Regions from separate parts of the Homo sapiens genome. Here region 1 is linked to region 2. A link means that fine-mapping ties the variant in region 2 to the expression of a gene that starts in the linked region. Tissue or cell type: whole blood. Region 2 holds a variant in brackets; the other region holds the start of a gene. All regions are shown on one strand. Distances are from middle to middle.

The links. PIP is the estimated chance that this variant, and not a neighbour inherited with it, causes the effect.
Region 1: it holds the start of MCUB, and the variant in region 2 is fine-mapped to the expression of MCUB in whole blood (TOPMed, PIP 0.97).

The regions. Positions count from the first base shown.
Region 1 is chr4:109,556,553-109,564,672 of GRCh38, reverse strand. It overlaps MCUB (mitochondrial calcium uniporter dominant negative subunit beta), which reads right to left and starts at 4,427. Exons shown (of 8, transcript NM_017918.5): 1 at 4,237-4,427. The coding sequence starts at 4,335. RefSeq lists an enhancer at 3,541-3,740 and a silencer at 4,161-4,480.
Region 2 is chr4:109,660,526-109,668,525 of GRCh38, reverse strand. It overlaps MCUB (mitochondrial calcium uniporter dominant negative subunit beta), which reads right to left. Exons shown (of 8, transcript NM_017918.5): 4 at 4,132-4,236. It also overlaps a transcript of CASP6 not described here. Among named protein-coding and RNA genes, the nearest start is that of CASP6, 39 kb to the left of the region's middle. The variant C/T (reference allele first, on the strand shown) is at 4,691.

The DNA.
Region 1 (8,120 bases), 100 kb after region 2:
TTACCTTAATTACAGGTTCACTACAAGTATTGTAGATCAGGTTTGCATTTTGGCAGCTCTTTAGGGAACAGATTTCAGTCCAGGATTCACAATATTGATGAGAAATCATCTATGAAATCTGCATGATAAACAAGGTCTATTGAAGATAATTTTTTTGGAATAGATTTGAGGGCAAGAAATAGGGAACAGTGAAAGAGAGGCAAGATATGGGGCTAGACTTGAAATGCATATAGCCAGCCGGGCGCAGTGTCTCATGCTTGTAATCCCAGCACTTTGGGAGGCCAAGGTGGGCAGATCACGAGGTCAGGAGATCGAGACCATCTTGGCCAACATGGTGAAACCAAACCCGGTCTCTACTAAAATACAAAAAATTAGCTGGCCCCCATGGTGGCACATGCCTGTAATCCCAGCTACTTGGAGGCTGAGGCAGGGGAATCGTTTGAACCCGGGAGGCGGAGGTTGCAGTGAACTGAGATTGCGCCACTGCACTCCAGCTTGGCGACAGAGCAAGACTCCGTCTCAAAAAAAAAAGAAAAGAAAGAAATGCATATAGCCTATAAGCAGAAATAAATAAGAAATGACATAAAACATTGAATCTCATATCAAGAAACTGACAGGTTCACAAAGCTTTGCTGTGGTAAACTTTAGAGAGGAAAATCTTGAAGACTGGCAAGGGTCACCCCACAAATATGAGTTCTTCCTGAGGATCTTATGATATTTACTAGATTGAGTAGATTATTAGGTCTGGCTTTTTCCTTTACTTTTATTTTTTTAAGAAGTGCTGTGGGCTGGGCGCGGTGGCTCACGCCTGTAATCCCAGCACTTTGGGAGGCTGAGGCAGGAGGATCACGAGGTCAGGAGTTTTAGCTCGAGGTTTTCTACCTTAGTTTCACAGGTACCTCATTCAACAAATATCTTTCTGCCAAGACACAAATGATTTCCTAGCTTAGAATTTGCTGTAAAACAGCACTAATACCATTTAATCACAATAACAAGCAAAATCTAAAAAAAACACACTAATACTTAAGTGCTGCAAAAGTGGTAATGTTTAATATTTAATTGACAAGCTGGTCTAGCATTACTTTGAGATCAAAGCATCAATGTCTTTTCCATAGCGTAAATACAATCACCAACACTTAACCAATTGCTCTCCTCAGGAGAGGGCTCTGAAGTTAGTTTTATAGAATAGAATACAATGTACCAACTGCAAATACAAGAGATAGAATAGTAGGAACATGTCAAACAAGAACGATATGTTCATTAAATTAAAAAGATGAAAACAATTTCTAAGTTGACATCTTGTGGTGGAATTTAAACATCCATATGCTTTGTTTCTAGAAGTTAAAAAAAGCATACTCGATACTTAAGCTGCTCTGCAGAGTGCTTGATGTAAAAATTTTTTAAACATAGCTTATGTATGGACTCAAATGCTGTACTGGGGACATGAAATCGTATCAGGGAGTTTCTCAGTCTAAGTAGCACAAAATCCAAATTAAGAAAGGCACATTTAGGCAAGGGCTTTCTGTTCAGATGTAACTCACCAAGCACCACAATTACTCAAAGCTGAGTCTTTGTGCACAGAAACATCAGCAGGAGCCATGGATTGCCCTGACAACCACTCAGCTAGAGTGCTGACAAGCAGAGATGCTGCCACCAGAGCGTGATTATGGCCACCAGGCCATGCCTTGCCCAAAGATGAATACAATATGCTCTTGCTCTACTACGCTTCAGACTAAATGTGTTCTTTAAAAAACAATTCTGTATATCCATGTCAACAAACTGTTTTTTTTTCCCCTCACCCAGAAAACACTAGCAGACAATTGCTCACATACAATATGAAGTATGAGAATTGTGTATTTTTCAAAGTTATTAAATGCTCCTATAAGGCACACTCATAGAAGTGTGAAAGACTTCAGAAAGACCAATTATAGTTGGGAACGCTTATTTGAAATACTGCTTACGACAAGTCCTTGCAAGCTAAGATTTTATGAGCTGTCAGGTCACAAACTACTTGTTTTTCTAGCTGCTTCATAGGCTCTAGGGGTCTGAATGTTTCTGGGAAAAAAAATAAATAGAAATAATACTTGCCTTTACCCACAGGATATTTCATAACAAGTGGGAAAGCCACAAAAGAGTGATATCTTAGAATGAAAAATGTCCCGATAGCCAGGTAATTTGATTAGCAGAAAATGGTTTAGTAGTCCTAGCTAAAACTCCTCAAGAGCCAGAATATTTTTATCGGTTTACTCATGGTAAAATGTAAAAGCTGTATATAAAGAACAGCATTTCCACTTCTCAAGTTCTGAAAATTGTCTTTATAGCTGGACAGTTGGCTTAAAACAAAAATTTGCAAATTAGAAACATTCAAACATAACGCTTCTTACGATGATTCCTAACTACTGTTTCCCTGTTATTAGGCCTAATAAGCCCGATGGTACCATTTTCTTTTAAAAGGGTATCCACATTCCTGCTGAGGTATGCAATGGCACCACCCTAGACAGCATCAGATGGGAAATATGGAGAAAAGGATTTGCAGGTGATAATTTGAGAAAGGGCAGCCAGTCCCGGGATCCACAAAAATGCTACTCAACGTGTTAAATGGACTTAATAGAAAACACTTGGGGCTGGTCGCGGTGGCTCACCCCTGTAATCCCAGCACTTTGCGGGGCTGAGACGGGCGGATCACAACGTCAGGAGTTCGAGACCAGCCAGTCTGGCCAACATGGTGAAACCCCGTCTCTACTAAAAATACAAAAATTAGCCGGGTGCGGTGGCGCGCGCCGGTCATCCTATTTTCTGGGGAGGCTGAGGTAGGAGAATCGCTTGAACCCAGGAGGCGGAAGTTGCAGTGAGCCGAGATCGCACAACTGCACTCCAGCCTGGGTAACAGAGCAAGACTCCGTCTCCAAAAACAACAACAAAAAACAATAATCTGTGTTTAAAATGGCATGTGAAAGGGGTTCCTCGTATTGGGTTGTTTTAATGTTTGGTATCTCTTTGACTACACAATGCAACACTTACAGTAAAAGTACAACCTTTAAAAGTATAAAAAGCCCATCTCCCCAATGACTTTATAAGTCTACCATTTTACATTTTAAGGAGTTTGCCCCTGTTCTTACATTTAGTAACAACATGGCCTTCCTCATTCTCTTTCAAACATTCCTGGAATTGATTTTCTGAATGCACTTAATCCTTTGGTCACAAGCTCAATGAAAAGGAAAAAAAAATGCACTTAAATATTCCCTGCATCAATTGAAACTGAAGCCCTCAGACAGCTGGAGGAAAAGGGGGGGAAGGAAAAAAAAGAACAAAATAAACAGGAAGTGAAAGTGACAAGAGAATCACACTGCTTACTTTTTGGCTTTTAAGCCTTTAACAATCTGAAAGTAATCTTAACAGTGTGGGGGAGGAACAAACGAAAACTCAGAAACAGCTCCCTCCCCAACCACACACACCCTGAAGGCTTTGGCTGTCTTTCCTCATCTGGGTCAGAGTTTGCACTCCCGGGCTCCTGTCAGGCTCCATCGCAATCCTCCTTAAACTCAGCGCTTTCCCCTTCTTCTAGTCTTTTTTGGTGCACATCCACTCTCTACTCCTCCAAGCCACGGTTCTCCACAGACCACAATACAACGGTGTCAGGCCAACTGTTACTCACCAGCACACTCATGATTCACCCGTCTCTCGGGTGTCTGAACAAAACGCGAGTTTTTCTTCCTTCTGGGAAAGGGAGGTGCTCGCAGATTTCAGGATGGAAATTTCACTCTCCTGCGACCGTCCACACCCGGGACGGTCACTGCCCCGTTCATCGTTTCCGGGCTCCTTAGGGGCTCGGGCACTGATCACCAAGAGGGAACCGGCCCCGCGGCGCAGCGGCTTTGGAAACTTGCTCCTGACCGAGAGCTGCAGCCCAGAAACTGCCTCCCAGGTTATTCTGCTGCTCCCAGGCCGAAGTCTGGTGGTCCCCGCACCCTATCTCGGCCCGGGTGAGGCACCCCCAGCCGCAGCGCTCTGGCTTCACCTTCCCCGGGCCCGGAGTCTTGACCTCAGCCCAGGCCTCCGTGACCCACGTCGGCCGCCCGGCCACCACCTGTCGGGACCGCCCGGCGCGCGGAGCCCGGCAGCCAGCAAAACGCAGTTGACTGCTCGGCCGCTCGGCTTTTGCTCCCGCCAAAGTTGTCCAACGCAAACTTTGCACCAGCCTACCCCGAACCCCCACAGCCCGGCACCCGCTCTTACCTGGGGCGGAGGCGGCAGCGGCCACGGGCGCGCTGGGCGCCAGGTGCCAGGGGTCGGCAGCAGCCGCGTGCGCCACGGCCAGAGGCCCCTCTGGAGCATCCTCCCGCCCCAGGCGCGCGGCTCCCGCAGGCGTCAGCGGCGCATCCTCCCTCAGCCGGGCTCCTCGTCAGCGCCTGGTGGCTCCGAGCTGTGGGCGCTCCCGCCCCGCCTGCTCGCTCAGCGCGCCGCGGCTCCAGCTTGGGCGGGCTCACGGGAGGGTGTGTCCCTGTTTCCACTTGTCGGCTCTCTACGCATCCGGGCGCAGGGCTGTTTTCTTTCCTCCGACCAAAAAAAAAAAAAAAAAAGAGAGCGAGAGAGCGGGAGCCCGAGAGCGGGAGCCCGAGGTCGAGGGCCCCCTCCTTCTCCAGCAGAAGACCCTCTGGAATGAACAGCAGCAGGCGACGCACACCTTGCGAGCTCTAGATTTCAAAACTCGCTGTTAATTCCCGGTGCTGCGTGCTCTGAGCGCCGTCTTCGCCATCCAACCCAGACGGGGATGAGACGAAAACAGCGTCCGGCATCTGGAGGGGGCAGGGCCGCTCAGGAAGTTTGTTTTCCCCACCGAGCTTGGAGAAGACGGATTGAAGCGGGTCGGCCGAGGCCTCTCCCACCTCCACAACCTCCAAGGCCTCTGCCCCGGGCTGCGGTGCCGGGCCCCTGCTCGCTGGCGAGTGCGGTGTGAGGCGGGCAGCCCGGGCCTACCCCTGCGGAGGTTTGTAGTTCACGGTATAGGGGCCCAAACCCGAGTTTTTTGGGAAAGTATCTCCCACAGAATTGGCTTCTCTTTTGAAGCACGTTTTTAATTGAAGAAGCTTCGGAACCGGTATTGAGTTCTTCTAACTACTGGGAAATCGGATGCTTTGTTTTGAGACTACTTATTTTTGAAAGCAAACCAAAGGCATTAAAGAGCAACCTAAACCAATTACAGTAGGGTTGTTAGATAAAATATAGGATGCCCAGTTAAACTTGAATTTTAGATACAAATAGTGAAGTATGTCCCAAATATTGCATGGGTCACATTTATTATTTTAAAAATGAAATATCTGGGATATACTAAATTATTTGGTGTTTATCTGAATTCAAATTTAACTGGGCACTCCGCATTTTTATCTCCTGAATCTGCAAGAGGGTTCAGTTAATGAATCAAAATTGGCAAACCTGCAATAAGTGGCAAATCACTCCTGGCGGTAATCTCCTTTCCTTATTGAAAAGGGAAAGAATCACAAGTTTCTACTATAGTAAAAACTTTATCACTATTAAAGGCTGATTCACCTGTGTTAACTAGCATGTCTTTCAAAATACAGTTGCCCCAGATGGAGAGTGACACATGAAACTTTAAGTTCATATGGGAAGGTAAATTACCTTACCTGAATCTTTTCCTCCTATTAGCTAGTGCTCCAAGTGAAAGAAGCGTGTATTTTTGTTTTTTTGTTGTGAAGGGTTCTTGTTTAATACAACTGAAAAGAATGCCTATACAAAGAATTGACATGAAAAAGCATTGATTCAACACTCATGAGCTAGGTTCTGAAAGGTGTAAAAAAATTACCTGAACATTTTTAGAAATTGGAAACTACAACTAAAACTGATAAAAATCCCTATTAACATTTGTGAAGAATCTTGATAATGTGTCCTGAATTGGTGGGTTCTTGGTCTCACTGACTTCAAGAATGAAGCCGCGGACCCTGGTGGTGAGTGTTACAGTTCTTAAAGGTAGCGTGTCCGGAGTTTGTTCTTTCTGATGTTCGGACATGTTTGGAGTTTCTTCCTCCTGGTGGGTTCAGTGGTTTCGCTGGCTTCAGGAGTGAAGCTGCAGACCTTGGCAGTGAGTGTTACAGCTCTTAAGGTGGCGCGTCCGGAGTTGTTCATTCCTCCCAGTGGGTTCGGGTCTCACTGGCCTCAGAAATGAAGCTGCAAACCTTCACGGTGAGTGTTACAGATCATAAAGGCAGTGCAGACCCAAAGAGTGAGCAGCAGCAAGATTTATTGCAAACAACAAAAGAACAAAGCTTCTAGAGCGTGGCACGGGACCCAGACAGGTTGCCACTGCTGGCTCTGGCAGCCTGCTTTTATTCCCCCATCTGGCCCCACCCACATCCTGCTGATTGGTCCATTTTACAGAGCGCTGATTGGTCCGTTTTGACAGGGTGCTGATTGATGTGTCTACAATCCCTGAGCTAGATACAGAGTGCTGATTGGTGTATTTACAATCCTTTAACTGGATATAAAGGTTCCCCAAGTCCCCACTAGATTAGCTAGACACGGAGCACTGATTGGTGCATTTACAAACCTTGAGCTAGACACAGGGTGCTGATTGGTGTGTTTACAATCCTTTAGCTAGACATAAAGGTTCTCCAAGTCCCCAGGAGATTAGCTAGATACAGAGTGCTGATTGGTGCATCCACGAACCCTGAGCTAGACACAGAGCACTGATTGGTGCATTTACAAACCTTTAGCTAGACAGAGTGCTGATTGGTGCATTTACAATCCTCTAACTAGACATAAAAGTTCTCCAAGTCCCCACCCCTCTCAGGAGCCCAGTTGGCTTCCCCTAGTGGATGCCATGCCAGGGTTGCGGGCTGAGCTGCTTGCCAGTCCTGCGCTCGTGCCTCGTGCCTGCACTCAGCAGCCCTTGGGCAGTCAATGGGACTGGACGCCGCTGAGGCAGGGGCGGTGCCCCTCAGGGAGGCTAGGGCCTAGCAGAAGCCCACCGCGGGGGGACTTGCACATGGCGGGCTGCAGATCCGAGCCCTGCCCCATGGGGAGGTGGCTGAGGCCTGGTGAGAATTTGAGCGTGGCGCGGGCCGGCTGGCAGTGCTGGGGGACCTGACGCCCCCCTCTGCAGCTGCTGGCCCAGGTGCTAAGCCCTTCACTGCCCGGGCCGGGGGTGCCGGCCGCCCTCCGAGTGCGGGGCCACGGAGCCCACGCCCACCCGGAACTCGCGCTGTCCCGCAAGGCCACATGCAGCCCCGGTTCCCACCCGCGTCTCTCCCTCAACCTCCCTGCAAGCAGAGGGAGCTGGTACCAGCTTCCGCAAGCCTGGAGAGGGGCTCCCACAGTGCAGCAGCGGGCTGAAGGGCTCCTCAAGCATGGCCAGAGCGGACTCTGAGGCCAAGGAGGCGCTGAGAGCCAGCGAGGGCCGCCAGCACATTGTCACCTTTCAATAAGATTCTTTACACAATTTTTATTAAACCAGAGAGCCAGCCAGGCGTGGTGGCTCATGCCTGTAATCCCAGCACTTTGGGAGGCCAAGACGGGCGGATCACAAGATCAGGAGTTCAAGACCAGCCTGGCCAACATTGGTGAAACCCTGTCTCTACTAAGAATACAAAAATTAGCCGGGCGTGGTGGAACGTGCCTGTAGTCCTGGCTACTCGGGAGGCTAAGGGAGGAGAATTGCTTGACCCCGGGGAGGCAGAGGTTGCAGTGAGCCGAGGTTGTGCCACTACACTCCAGCCTGGGCGACAGAGCAAGACTCCATCTCAAAAAAAAAAACAAACCAGAGAGCCTCATTTGGGGGCTCTTGGGTTCCTCGTCTGCTACACAGAAGTGAGGAGATTCCCCTGACTGATCTCATGTTGTTAAGTGTTCTATCCATCCCCACCACACCCCAACTTCTTCATGAAGCAGGTCTCCATCCTTATAACTTGAGAGGCTGTGAATCATTCCATAGATGTCGGTCTTCTGCTACCGCTCTTCACATTGCCTCTACATACCAGGTCTTCAGCTGCATTCTAGAAACATCATATACTATTGATTGCAAATCTATAATAATATAAGACAATGACTGACAGGGAAAAAAGTTTTTTTAAGTTACAAACTCAATCCACTTGTTGCATTTCAAAGGT
Region 2 (8,000 bases):
GACATATATAGATGAAAAGCAAAGGGATGAAGAAAGATATACTATGCTAACACTAATAAAAAGAAAGCTGAAATAGCTATATTAATTTCAGACAAAACAGACATTAGAGCAAGGAAAGCTACCAGGAGTAAAGAGAGACATTACATAATAATAAAAGGCCAATTCTCCAAGAAGACAGAACAATGCTTAATGTGTATGCTCCTAACACAGCATCAAACTACATGAGGCAAAACAAAAACTAATAGAACTACAAGAAGAAATAGATGAATTCATGTTTACAGTTACAGACTTCAACATTCCTCTATTAGAAATGGACAGATCTGCCAAGCAGAAAATCACGGGGTATACAGTTGAACTCAATAGCACCACCAATCAACTGAGATAAACGTGACATCTATAGACTATCCAACAACAGCACAATACACATTCTCAAGTTCACAGGGAACATCTCATCAAGACAGATCACAATGAAGGCTATAAAACTCACATGAGTAAATGTAAAAAAAGAAAAATACAATGTATGCTTTCGGATCTCAGTGGAATTAAACTAAAAATCAATAACCCAAAGATAGCTGGAAAATCCCAAAATACTTAGATATTAAATAATGTACTTCTAACACATGGGTCAAAGAAGAAATCACAAGAAAAAAATTAAAATATTTTAAAATAAATGAAAATACAACTTATCAAAATTTATGGAAGGCAGTGAAAGCAATGCTCAGAGGGGAATCTATAGGATTGAATACATATAACAGGAAAGAATAAACATCTATAAGATCTGAACTTATACTTTAAGAAACTAGAGAAAGAGGAGCAAATGAAATGAAAAGCAAGCAGAAGAAAAGAGATAATAAATATAGTAGAATATTTATTATGTAGAGTATATAATATACTCTACATAATATATATTCTATTCTATATTATAAACATAGAGTAGAAACCAATGAAATTGAGAACAGGAAACCCACAGAGAAAAATCAATGATGTTAAAAGCTAGTTCTTTGGAAAAAATCAATTAAATTGATAAACTTCTAGCCAGGTTAATCAAGAAAAAAAGAGACAACAAGTTACTCATGGTAGAAATGAAATGAGAGGATTTAACTACAGATCCCATGGACATTAAAAGGAAAATAAAGAAATACTATGAACAACTCTATGCCCACAAATTCAATAACCTAGACAAAATAGATTAATTCTCTAAAAGGTACAATCTATCAAAACTCACACAAAAAGAAATACACAATCTACATAAGCCTATACCTATTAAGCAACTGAATCAATAATAAATTTCCAAAACAGAAAGCACCAGGTCCAGATGGATTTTCTTGGTGAATTCTACCAAACATCAAAGGAAGAAACTATATTAATTATCTACAATCTCTTTCAGAAGACAGAAGCAGAGGGAATACTTCCTAACTCATTCTATGAGGCCAGCATTACCTTAATACTAAAACCAGACAAAAACACTGTAAGAAAACAAAACCACAGACCAATATCTCTCGTGAATATAGACACAAAAATCCTCAGCAAAATAATAGCAAATAAAATACAACAATGTCTAAAAAGATTGCTACACCACAACTAAGTGGGATTTATCCAGGTATGCAAGGCTCAACACTTGAATATGAATTCATGTAATCCATCATATCAACAGACTAAGGAAGAAAAATCACATGATAATATCAATAGATGCAGAAAAAGATTTGACAAAATTGAACACCAATTCACAATGAAGACTCTCAGCAAACCAGGAACAGAGGGCAATTTCCTCAACTTGTGAAAGACAATGAGAAAGCAAGCCATAGCCTGGGAGAAAATATTTGCAAAAGACGTATCTGATACAAGACCGTTATCCCAAACATACAAAGAACTCAAAAGAAAATGAACAACCTGATCACAAAATGGGCAAAGATCTGAAAAGACACCTCAACAAAGAAGACATAGATGGCAAATAGGCGTATGAAGAGATGCTCATCATCATACATCATTAAGAAACTACAAATTAAAACAATGACTACACACCTACTACAATGGTGAAAATCACATCCAAATCACTAATACCACCAATTGCTGGCAAGGATATGGGGCAACAGGAATTCTCATTCACTGCTGGTAGGAACACAAAATGGTACAGCCACTTTGGAAGACAGCTTGACAGTTTTACACAAAACTAAACACTCTCACCATATGTGCCAGCAATCATGTTCCTGGGTATTTAACCAAATGATTTGAAAATCTACGTGCAAACAAAAGCCTGCGCATGTGTATTTATAGCAACTCCATTCATAATTGCCAAAACTTGGAAGTATCCCAGATGTCCTTCAGTAGGTGAATAAACTGTGGTACATACAGATAATGAACAATTATTCAGCACTAAAAGGAAATGAGCTAACAAGCTCTGAAACACATGAAAGAAACTTAAATGCATATTACTAAGTGAAATAAGCCAAGCTGGCCTTCCTCTTCACTTTCTTCTTTACTGCCTCGTCTCCTCCCTTATCACTCCCTTTTCTTCTCTTTGCTCTCTCTTCCTTTCCCCCTTCTTCTTTCCCCTCTTGCCTTTCTTTTTTTCCTCCCACTCTCCCCCTTTTTTCACTCCTCTCTCTCACTGTTTAGTATTTTCCCTGTTGTACCCCCTTTCTTAAATATCCTATTTTCTCTTCCCTTGCTCTCTCATGTCCCTGGCCCTACTACCATGCGCCCCCACCCCTGCCAAAAAGAAAGAAAGAAGCGAATCTGAAAAGGCTATACAATCAGCCCTTCTTATTTGTGGGTTCTGCATCTGTGAACTCAACCAACCATGGATTGAAAATATTTGGGAAAAAAATCTAATAAAAATTAACAATACAACAACAACAAAATGAATGAAAAAACAATATAGTATAACAACCATTTACACAGCATTTACACTGTCTTAGGTATTGTAAGTAATCTAGAGATTTAAAGTATATGAAGGGAGTATGGAGGTTAAATGCAAATATAACAAACATTTTGTATCAGGGCCTTGAGCATCCTTGAATTTTGGTAGAGTTTGGTAGAGTTTGCCTGGCCCTATTCTGTATAATTCTTAATGTCATAGACAGGTTCTTGAAAACTGCAACTTTAAATGAAACAACTATAAGGAAACCAATTTTACCATAGGCTAATTGATATAAGCAAGAGTTAGGTTCTTACAGCATATTTCTGGTCATAAAAACATCATTAAACATCTAAATAAAGACCCAAGACACTTTTAATGTTAAATATTAAAATAAATGTAAGCTACATATACATTTAAGAAAGATTAATAAAAACAAGATGATTATTTACATTATGTACATTAATGATGAATACATGTAGTTCTACATTTGTCACAATCTATAGAATATACAACACCAAGAGTAAACCCTAATGTAAACTATGGACTTTGGGTGACAATGATGTGTCAGTGTGTTCACCAATTTTAATAAATATACCAGTCTGGTGTGGGATATTGACAATAAGGGGCGTGGGGTGCAGAGAGCATATGGGAACTCTCTCTACATTCTGCTCGATTTTGCTTTGAACCTAAAACTGCTTTAAATAATACAATTTTTTTTTTTTACAAGAGTTAAGAGCTATACAATCATGTATACTTGAATTCTTGATTTTCAGGCCTACCTCTCTCTTAACCCAATAATGTCGGTTAAGCATTCAAGATCCTAAAGTAAAATCCTGAAAGTCTAAAAAGAGTATACGGGACTAAAAGTCCTGCTAGGCAACTGTAGGTGATCACTTATACCCCTGCTGGAAAAGCTTAAACACTGGTTTTCCAAAGACTTCTTGGTCATCTGATAAATTTAAGATTCTTAACATAAACTTTGCTCCCTCTGGAAACCTCACAGCTAAAGGTAAAAGTGAAGATACCAGCCTGGACAACATAGGGAGACCCAATCCCTAAAAAAATGTTAAAAAATTAGCCAGGCATGGTGGTGCATGCAGGTAGTCCCAGCTACTCTGGAGGCTGAGGTGGGAGGATTGTTTGAGCCCAGGAGTTTGAGATTACAGTGAGCTATGACGACGTCACTGTACTCCAGCCTGGGAAACAGAGCAAGTGAGAATTCATCTAAAAAAAAAAAAAAAAAGTAATAGTTGGATAGCTGTGTTTCTTACCTCTCTTTGGACACTGCACATCATATGCTATTTTATTAATGACAAGTTTAAAATCATTCATTAGCAAAATATCCATCAAGGTAGAAGCTGAAATCATGTTGCCATCTGAAAGAAAAACATCATGCATGAGCATGTCTTTGTTTTAGAACAGTAAGAACCATTTTCCAACACATAGAAAATTACTAACCCAGGTCTTTACAATATAATAGTGGACAATTTACTTTTGTGGGGGGTGTCCCCAAACCCAAACACTATTCCCATTGAGGGGAATCCTCCTCTATTGCTCTACCTCCCATTTCCTTGGACGAAATGGAACAGGCAGGCACTCCCTCTCCCACCCTGTCAGCTGTGCTGGAATCCAGGTAGTGCCCTTGGTGAAACTGCATCTGTGGAGAGTCATGCAAAGGTTCAGGGGAGGTGGAAACCCTTCACAGCAAGGCCAGAGCAGTGGCAGGTGACAGTTTTGGGGGTAGGGTGGAGTGTAGGCAGCAGAGCTCATCAGGTGGTTACTGGGTTAACCTGGTCTCAGCTCCTGTCTTCTCTTAGTTCCTGCCCTCTT[C/T]TGGGCCTGTCTTCTGCCACTTCCAGCATGAGAGCCTGTTGACATACTCCTCTGCTTAGCCAGAGTCCATTCTGCTGCTTATGGCCAAGCTTCTGACTGGCACATGTAGGCATAAGGGTATAACTATTTAAAAACCCTGCCTTTCTCTTATTTTTAATTATTAGAGGTAACTGATTTGTGGTGGTTAAAAATTTAGTAGCTAAATAGCACCACAAGCTATCACCACATGGGCTCATCTTCCTTTCAAGCTTGAAAAAAATGAAGAGGCAAACTGTCAAGGAGGTGAGGACAATAATGAACGTGATGCCTAAGAAATAAATTTGCATTGTATGGTTTATTTTGTGGAAGGGGAGAGAGGCAGGAGAGATTCTAACAGTAATTTCAAATATCCTAGGAGTATTTCAGGAAAAAAAAAGTCTTGAAAAATTTTAACCACAATGTGCTTTGCACAGCCTCTCATAGAGCCTAGGTTTTGTTATATTTTTGAACCAAACTTTAATGTAATCCAGGTGTTAAGAAAGCAAATTCACTGAACAATAAGCAAAAAATTGGTGCTGGGTAGAGGTTTCTTTTTCTATCATTTTCCCTTCAGAATAGTTCACATATAATTACATGAAATTAAGTCCAGGAAAATGCTGGATGTGTATTTTCAAATCCCGGCCTGACATTCATTTGGTTACATTCAACCCGAGCTATTTTAGCTATATTAATATGTGTGATGACAGGACTAACACTAGTAACATCCCGAAGAAACTGGCTGCTGCCTCTTGTCTGCCTCCCTATAGTTCTTTTGTTCTGGAAGACTGCAAATCAAGTCTGCACCTGTGTCTGTTCCTAGAATTTGGCTGTTTGGGTTGCTGTTCATCAGTTGCAGTGAGATCATTTTCCAAAAAATTGCCAAATAATTCAACCCACACAATGGGCAAAACTGTGACAAGCTTAGAACACTCTTTTCAAGCCCAAATTAAATGCAGGCAAATTCCACCCACAGAGTCTTTTAAAAAGAAGAAAAAAAAAATCAGCAACACACCAATCGCTTTATCTTTCCAAGTGTCATTTAAAAATTTACATGTAAATGACTTCAAACCAGCTCCTTAAAATCTTACTAAAAAAGACATACACTGAATATGATTTCTCAGTTGAAATACTATATTATCCTTTATACAAAGGTATGAATAGCAAAAGACTGACGTGAAACATTTTTAAGCACTAGTGATACAGTGTTAAATTTTTCATGTATTCTTGGGTATCAATTTAAACCCCCGATAGGGTGTTTGCACTCAGTCCAAAGAGTCCCTTTTCTCTAAGACTTCTATTCTCTTTCTTTGTGCTTTCTGTTTCAAAGCTACTAACTTTATTTTTAGAAATAAGCAGGATAAACATCTATCATTTTAACCTCTCTTATTTCATTCACTTCAATACTAATTGAGTACACACCACCAGGCAAGTGCTGCTCAGTGCAGGCCCTTCTGACTTCCAGGTTTGGGTCTGCCTGCCCCTAGAAGCTTAGAAAGAGGGCCCTGCCCCTGTGGAAAACGCCCATGGACATTCCAGTGTTCCTGTGCCTGGGGGAAATGTCTGTCTAGTTCAAGGATGAAATATTAGGAAGCCCATTGTGCCATAGGGCTAAAACCTTATTCTCTGATCCAGGTTTTAGCAGGAAGAAACGTCCCTTCCAGCTAAATCTATAGTCCTAACAACAACCTACAATAAGCCTTTCCTGATCTGCCCTTCCCCACCTCTCAGAACTCCTCCTTTCTCCCAGCTCCCTCCTTTGCGGTCACTGTGTAGTAGGCTCCCACCTCAATGCAGTCTCACTCTATCACTCAGGCTGGAGTGCAGTGGTGCCATCTCGGACCACAGCAACCTCCGCCTCCCATGTTCAAGCGATTCTCCTGCTTCAGCCTCCTGAGTAGCTGGGATTACAGGTATGCAACACTACACCTGGCTAATTTTTGTATTATTAGTAGAGAAGGGGTTTTGCTATGTTGGCCAGGCTGGTTTCAAACCCCTGACCTCAGGTGATCCACCCACCTCGGCCTCCCAAAGTGCTGGGATTACAGGTGTGAGCCACCGCATGCGGCCCAGAGCTCTCTTCCCTCTACGTGACTCCCTCCCTCATTTCCCCCAGGTCTTTGTGCAAATGTAATCTTATCAAGCCCACCCCTGCCCACACACATCTTCCACACTCTGCTTTATTTTTCTTCGTAACACTTATTATTTAACATAATACATAATTTATCTTGTTTTTTTCTCCTCCTAAATATAAGCTCCATAAGGGCAGGAGTTTTTATCCCTTTTGTTCTCTGCACTACCTCTAGCGTATAGAACAGTGCCTGACATACATTAGGTGCTCAATAAATATTTGTTGAATGAATCAATTAATCTCCATTTTCCAACTTCTCTATCTTTTAATTAATTTGGAACTTGGATAGGGAAAAAGTCTGTTTATTTCCCTTTCAAAACTGCAACAGTAATCATGAACCTAAATAACTTTATTCTAAGTATTTAATATCATAATGAAATAATGCAAATTTATTAATTTATCTATATTTGCAGCTGCTATGTAGTGGGATAGGGTAAATAATTCTTTATTCTATTTAGAAGCAGTTGGTCTAAGACCATTTCAGACTATGAGAACATGAAAGCTGTATTCTAAATTTTAAATGTCTAAGTGATGACATACTTCTGGTTTTTTAAAAAATGTATATTCTTCCTAAGAACTAATTCTGCCAAAAAACATACTAGACTGTAATTGCTTTATAACAGTGGTGAACAAATTTTTTGTGTACTTTAATTATTCACTGGCTTATTTTAATAATTAAAACTGCATTTTGTTTTCTAATTATTCAAATTTTGCTGAGAATTGCACGCTAATGCCTGTGCCACTAAGATTTTCTCATGAAAAACCTTTAAGGCTAAGTTTATAAAATAAGTAACTGAAATTTACATTAAATTTATTCCATTAATTTTTCATTCAATGAAGTTAAATTTTTTTTTTTTTTAATTTTCTTTTCTTGGGATGGAGTTTCACTCCTGTTGCCCAGACTGGAGTGCAATGGCGTGATCTCGGCTCACTGCAACCTCTGCCTCCTGGGTTCAAGCAATTCTCCTGCCTCAGCCTCCCAAGTAGCTGGGATTACAGGTATGTACCACCACGGGTGGCTAATTTTGTGTTTTTAGTAGAGACGGGGTTTCTCCATGTTGGTCGGGCTGGTCTCGAACTCCTGACCTCAGGTGATCCGCCTGACTCGGCCTCCCAAAAGTGCTGGGATTACAGGTGTGAGCCACCACGCCAGGCCAAAACAGT